Homo sapiens: one gene and its partner. The protein of the gene in region 2 purifies or fractionates together with the protein of the main gene of each other region. This does not show direct contact. Each region holds a gene or a part of one and is shown on either strand. Other genes may lie near its edges. The genes, in order: LRRFIP2 and SH2D1A.

Region 1 (3,826 bases), on a different chromosome or scaffold from region 2:
CCTGTATGTAAAAATAATTGGGGCTGGGCACGGTGGCTCACGCCTGTAATCCCAGCACTTTGGGAAGCTGAGGCGGGCGGATCACAAGGTCAAGAGATCGAGGCCATCCTGGCCAACATGGTGAAACCCCATCTCTACTAAAACTACAAAAATTAGTGGGGCATGGTGGCACGCGCATGTAGTCCCAACTACTCCAGAGGCTGAGGCAGGAGAATCATTTGAACCTGGTAGGTGGAGGTTGCAGTGAGTGGAGATCACATCACTGCACTCCAGCCTGGTGACAGAGCGAGACTCTGTCTCAAAAAAAAAAAAAATAATAATAATAATAATTGGATACATAGAGATGGCTTCCCCAGCTGTCCTTAACTCCACCAACAGGGGTCAAAGGGAGGCCTCTGCACTAAGATTAAGTTTGCCACTCCCCAATGGGAAAAGGGTAAGCTCTATATTGGGACTAACTCTATACTTCCCAGGCACCTCTGCCCTTTCAACACACAGGGTCACCATCATTAGCTGCCTTGAGGGAACCAGGACAAATCTCAGTATCTCCATCATTCCTATTTATGTGCATCTCACAAAGGGTCATATCCTTCCTCTGCAGTCTTCCTCACAAGGGTCTGTACGACCACTAACCTTCATCTCCTAACCTTTCCCAATGCCTGAAACTTTTCCACTGGGCCCTCTAGAATTATCAGTCCATCATCAGCAAACACCCTCTGTCCTCAGTCTTTTCTGAGCATCCCCCCTTTACCCTCGTGCTCTGATAACCCTCTCCTGCTGCTTCTGCAGCTCTCTCAAACACTGTTTTTGTTTTGTTTTGTTTTGTTTTGTTTGTTTGTTTGAGACAGGGTCTCGCTCTGTGGCCCAGACTGGAGTGCAGTGGCATGATCTCAGCTCACTGCAACCTCCGCCTCCCGGGTTCAAGCGATTTTCCTGCCTCAGCCCCCCGAGTAGCTGGGATTCCAGGTGCATGCCACCACGTCCAATTTTTGTATTTTTAGTAGATGGGGTTTCGTCATGTTGGCCAGGCTGGTCTTGAACTCCTGACCTCAAGTCATCCACCCACCTTGGCCTCCCCAAGTGCTGGGATTACAGACATGAGCCACCATGCCCGGCCCTTTTTTTTTTTGTACTTCCACAGCTTCCTACCACTGAATCTAGAAATGGAATAGGTGTCCTCTTGCTTTCCTTGCTGGTATTTTCCCTCCATCTTCCCTAAAAGTCCCAGGTCTTAATCTCGTCTCTTCAAATTATATACACTAACTACTTATCATTGCCAAAATCCCATTCCTTCATCACCATTTATTAAATAGCTCCCAACTTGCACTCCCTCTAGACTATTCCTGTCTTAATTTTTGGCAATTTCAATGTACATCTAAGTAGAGGATCTCCCTTACAAATGATCTCTCAATTTCTGGTATATCTCCTCTTACGGTTTGGATGTCTGTCCCCTCCAAATCTCATGTTGAAATGTATTCCCCAGTGCTGAAGGTGGGGCCTGGCAGGAGGTATCTGGGTCATGGGGCAGATCCCTCATGAATAGCTTTGCACCATTCCCTTGGTGATGAGTGAGTTCTCGCTCTGGTAGTTCACACAAGATCTGGTTGTTTAAGAGTGTATGTTACCTCCCCACTCTCTCTGGCTTCCGCTCGAGATATGACGTGCCTGCTGCCCCTTCACCTTCCGCCGTGATGAGAAGTTTCCTGAGGCTGGCTGGGCGCGGTGGCTCATGCCTGTAATCCCAGCACTTTGGGAGGACGAGGTGGGTGGATCACCTAAGGTCAGGAGTTCAAGACCAGCCTGGCCTGAGGCCTCAGGAAACTGAGCTCAGAAGCTGAGCAGATGCTGACAACATACTTCCTCTACAGCTTGCAGAACCATGAGCCAGTTTAAACCTCTTTTCTTTTTCTTTTTCTTTTTTCCTTTTTTTTTTTTTTGAGACAAAGTCTCACTCTGCCACCCAAGGCTGGAGTGCAGTGGCGCAATCTTGGCTCACTGCAGCCTCCACCTCCCTCCTGCCTCAGCTTCCCAAGTAGCTGGGACTACAGGCACCCACCACCATGCCCGGCTAATTTTTGTATATTTTTAGTAGAGTTGGGGTTTCACCATGTTGGCCAGGCTGGTCTCAACTCCTGACCTCAACCACCTGCCTCAGCCTCCAAAAGTGCTGGGATTACAGGCATGAGCTGCTGTGCCCAGTCAAACATCTTTTCTTTATAAATTACCCAGCCTCAGGTATTCCTTTATAGCGAAGCAAAAAATGGACTAACCCACCTCCCTTCCAAGGATCTTGCTATCTATCCCTTCTTGCCCTCAGCTACTCACTCCCACAGTCATATACCAGATCTCATCATTAGACAATTGTAATCCCTACACAATTTAGTTCCATGTATCCTCTCTCTAACCACTATTCCTCATCTTTCCAGGTCATTCTCTCTAGACCCGAATTCCAACAACCCTTCAACCACACTGGTACCACTAATCTACAGATTACATCTTCTTTCTACTATACCTTGATGTGTTCCTGAATATCTCCCGAATCCTCTTCATCCAGTTTAATTTCAAGGTCCATCATTATAATCATTTTCTTACATACTCCCTCACCTCTCCTGCCCCATTAATACTGTCCTAGTAAAATCTAGCTCTCTACCCACTCCATGCCTGCCCCTATGCTGCTGTAAGTAGCCAGAGAAACACATATAATAAATGCATTCACACAAACCTTCTAACATATCATATAATATTGTCTGATGTCTTCCTACTAGAATGCCTCTCAGGCAGGAATTTTTTTTTTCTAAACTAATTTATTCACTGAAATATCCCAGTGCCTAGAATAGTGCATGTTAAATAGTAGAATCTCACTCAACATTTGTTGAATGACTGAATAGGAGTTCCAAAATAGAGAACACAGCATATGGGAGGGGAAAAAAATCAGTAACAAAATCATTCAAGAAATTTTCCCAGAACTAAAGGATGGGAGCTCCTAGAATTGACAGGGGCCCAGCATCACACATGAAAACTTCAAATCACATGACTATCTTCAAATTACACCAGAATGCTAGAGAGAAAGAGAATAGGATACAAGCTTCCACAAAGAGGAGAAAAATAGATCACAAATCAGAAAAGATCAGAACTCAAAATGTTCATGAAAACTCAACAGCCATGCTCGAAGTCACAGCACAATGAAGAAATGTCCTTTTAAAAAATCTTAAGGAGAACCATGGCAACTCAGGATTCTCTACCCAGCCAAACTATTTTAATCAAGTGAGAGGGTAGAATGAAGACATCTTCAGGCCTGCAAGGTCATGAAAAATTAACAATCCACAAACCCTCTTCTCAGGAAGCTACTGGAAGATGTACCAAAATAAGAGAATAAATAAGGAGAAAGGCATGAGACACCGGAAAAAGGGAACCCAACCTAAATCACATGCAAAGAAAATCTCCAGATGCCAATGAAGGGTGACCACATCTATGTACCGAGAGGGCAAGTCACTAGTTTAGAAAGGGACAAGTCAGATGCACCAAGATTCAACAAACTGGAACTGAAATAACACCAGATGCATCTGAAAATACTGAGTGGGATTAATCTACTCTTGGAGATTCTGTGGCTAAATTGATGATAGAAAACCAAGCAAATACAAAGAAAAACCATAACATTAACTTTAGAGGAAACTAATAGTTCTGAGGGAGATGATCCTAGAATGCAACCTGGCTCCACTGTGTGAGTAGTGTTTAGAGGGTCCTAATGACACAAGCAGGCTGGAATTACACTGTTCCTTTATTAGGAGGATATAAGAGTGGAAAATAAGTATGTGTGTGGCAGGGA
Region 2 (3,826 bases):
GATCACAAGCATGTAACAATCTCATATGATGTTATACTCAAAATGCAGGAAAACAAGTTGAAAAACAAAGTTGTTAAACCCTAAGCATTTAAGATCCTTTCCTTACATAATATTCTTCAGCAGCTGAAGGGTATTTCTCTGGGGAGAAGAGCTATTTCTGGCGAAATAATATACAAACGTGTGTGTGTGTGTGTGTGTGTGTGTGTGTGTGTGTGTGTGTGTTTGTCAGTATATTTTACACATAACTTTCTTCATAATAAAGTTTAATTTCTTATTCAATCATCTCTGCAGTGATACAGAGAATTTTTTAAATAAACAGGTATAAATAGTTTCAATTAGAAATGGTATAACTTTATCTTTAGTTAGTATTATAGTTTTAATGATCCTTACATAATACAGCAAAAGTGTGTTTGAAAACTTGGCCTAATTCATCTCAGTGGTTCAAAACATTTGTGGTCTGTAATTTATACTTTCCAACTTACTGATAAATCAGTAAACGTGAGAGCTATTTTAACTTCTTGAAGTCTAGACTTCAGAAAATTTTAAATGCACAGATTGAGTTATTAATAGGAGTTGTGGCAATTTTCAGGAGTTCACTTTTTTGAGGGCTCACTGTGTGCCAGGCCTTGTGGCAAACAGCTTCTTTATGTGTGTTATCTTATTTACTTTTCAAATTGAGCCTTGTGCATAAGGGAGGATTCTTAGGCTCCGTTTACAAATGAAGAAACTGGCTCACAGAAAAGTCAAGTAACCTGCCCAAGATCATAGACCTATCAGAGAGGAGGGGAGACCAGACCTGGAACCCAGATTCACCTGTTGACAAAGCCTAGTTTCTTCCACTCATAACTGTTTAATTTCAAGTTATAACTTCCCAAGTATATTGTAGTCTCTTAGAAAATAAGCATCATGTTTTTTAATCTCCCACGATACCAATACTCATATTGGTATCATTTGGTAAATAATTGTTCATTTAATTATTTTACCTACTTTTGATATGCTAAGATTTCACATAGTCACTAAAAGTTTGACATAATTCTTCAACTTTTTTATCTTTCTCCCAAAGTCATACAACTCTGCAAAATGATGGCTAAACAGGACTGGGACCAAAATTCTCTAAAGCTTTCTTAATGATCCATGAACAATTTTGGATTGGAGCTTTAGAGATTTAAACCTTATGAATACTTAATAATGTATAATTTGCTCTTTTATAAAACCAGCCTAAATTTCAAATACCTCCTTGACACCCCCAGAAGCAAAAATAAATACAACTATACCTCAGCACTCCAAGAACCTGTTTCTGTCTGGGACACTCGGTATGTATAAATGTAACCGTGATACCTGTGAAAGAATAAACTTCCATTACTGAAAGATTCCAAAAGAACAATGGATACTTTAAATTTGAGCTTAATATTACATATAAATGTCACATATACTAGGACACACGTATATGGTGTCATTGCATTCATAGGAAGTAAAGCATAGTGAATCTAACTTGTCTCCATATTGTATCTGCCCAACCACAGTTTCCAGTGAGATTTCTTTATCTTTTCATTTTTTGAAATATGGAAATTCATGCTCCTAAAGATTTGTCAAGTTGAGAGACCATTTGGACAGAAAGAAACTACAACAGGGACCTGTTGTAATTGATAAAACCATGAATTATTAGATAGTTTTAACAAACAATAGACTTATTTTTAAGTACATATCGAAACTTAAGGTGAAAACATTTCACTGGGATAATACACTATCAGGCCCACATAAATAATTATTAATATTAATAATATTTGTTATAAATATAATGGCAATAGTATAAGGATATAATACTATAAATTGAATATAACTATATTTTTATAAAATTACTATTATAATGTATAGCAATATAATATTGCCACAGTCATGCATCACTTACCAAGGGGGATACATTATGAGAAGTGCATCATTAGGTGATTTCGTTGTTGTGCAAACATCATAGACTGTACTTACACAAACCTATATGGTATACCACCTAGGCTATGTGGTATAGCCTATTACTCCAGGCTACAAACCTGTACAGCATGTTACTGTACAGAATACTGTATGCAATTGTAACATAATGGTATTTGTGTATCTAAACCTATCTAAACATAGAAAAGGCACAGTAAAATATAGTATAAAAGATAAAGAATGCTATACCTGTTGAGAGTACTTACCATGAATGGAGCTTGCAGGACTGGAAATTGCTCTGGGTGAGTCAATGAGTGAGTGGTGAGTGAATGTGAAGGCCTAGGACATTACACTACTAGAATGTTATGAACACTGTAAACTTAGGCTACACTAAATTTATTTTAAAATATTTATATTTCCCAGATCACGAGGTCAGGAGATCGAGACCATCCTGGTTAACACAACGAAACCCCATCTCTACTAAAAATACAAAAACTTAGCCAGGCATGGTGGCACGCACCTGTAGTCCCAGCTACTTGGGAGGCTGAGGCACTGAGGCAGGAGAATCGCTTGAACTCAGGAGGCGGAGGTTGCAGTGAGACGAGATCACGCCACTGCACTCCAGCCTGGGTGACGGAGCGAGATTGTCTCAAAAAAAAAAAACTGTATCGCTTCAATAATAAATTAATCTTAGCTTCAACTCTTTTACTTTATAAACTTGTAAATTTTTTTAAACTTTTTGACTCTTTTATAACACTTCGCTTAAAACACAAACACATTGTACAGCTGTACAAAACTGTTTTTCTTTATATCCTTATTCCATAAGCTTTTCTCTGTTTCAAAATTTTTATTTTATGTATTCTTTGCTATTTAAACTTTTTTGTTAAAAACTAAAACACAAATACGCACATTAGCCTAGGCCTACAGAGAGGGTCAGGATCATCAGTATCACTGTCTTCCACCTCCACATCTTATCCCACTGCAGGATCTTCAGGTGCAGTCACACACACGGAGCTGTCATCTCCTATGATATTCATATTCCAGAATGCCTTCTGGAATACCTCCTGAGGGACCTGCCCGAGGCTGTTTTACAGCTAACTTTTTTTTATATAAGTAGGAGTAGATTTTAAAATAATGATAAAATGTATAGTACAGTAAATACATAAACCAGTAACACAGTAATTTGTTATCATTATCAAGTATTGTGTACTGTATGTAATTGTCTGTGCTATACATTTTTTTCTTTTTCTTTTTCTTTCTTTTTTTTTTTTTTTTTTTTTTTTTTGAGATAGAGTCTCGCTCTGTTGCCCAGGCTGGAGTGCAGTGGTGCAATCTCAGCTCACTGCAACCTCCGCCTCCCGGGTTCAAGCAATTCTGTTTCAGCCTCCCGAGTAGCTGAGGCTACAGGTGCATGCCACCATGGCTGGCTAATTTTTGTATTTTTAGTAGAGACAGAATTTCACCATATTGGTCAGGCTGGTCTTGAACTCCTGACCTCAGGTGATCCACCCACCTCAGCCTCCCACAGTGCTGGGATTATAGGTGCGAGCCATCACACCTGGCCTGTGCTATACTATTATACAGCTGACAGCACAGTCGGTTTGTTTATACCAGTGTCATCACAAATACATAAGTAATTCATTGTGCTGTGGCATTACAATGGCTACAACATCAGTAGGTGGTAGGAATTTTTCAGCTCCATTATAATCTTATGGGACCACCATTGTATATGCTGTTCGTCGTTAAGGAAAATGTTGCTATATTGCACATGACTGTATTACTATATTACCCTATAATATATTATAAATGAAGTAATAGTAAAAAATATATGAATTAAAAACAAGTGCTGCTTGTTTTAAATTATACTTTTGTGGAAGAGCAACTCTAAAATTCTGTAAACTAG

What was found.
Region 1: the proteins of SH2D1A (region 2) and LRRFIP2 purify together in Homo sapiens (affinity purification with mass spectrometry; one large-scale study listed by BioGRID and IntAct). This does not show direct contact.

What each region holds. Positions count from the first base shown.
Region 1 is NC_000003.12:37,059,486-37,063,311, forward strand, and holds part of LRRFIP2 (leucine-rich repeat flightless-interacting protein 2), read right to left. Parts: intron 1-3,826. UniProt on the Homo sapiens protein: May function as activator of the canonical Wnt signaling pathway, in association with DVL3, upstream of CTNNB1/beta-catenin.
Region 2 is NC_000023.11:124,363,273-124,367,098, reverse strand, and holds part of SH2D1A (SH2 domain-containing protein 1A), read right to left. Parts: intron 1,339-3,826; coding exon 1,275-1,338; intron 1-1,274.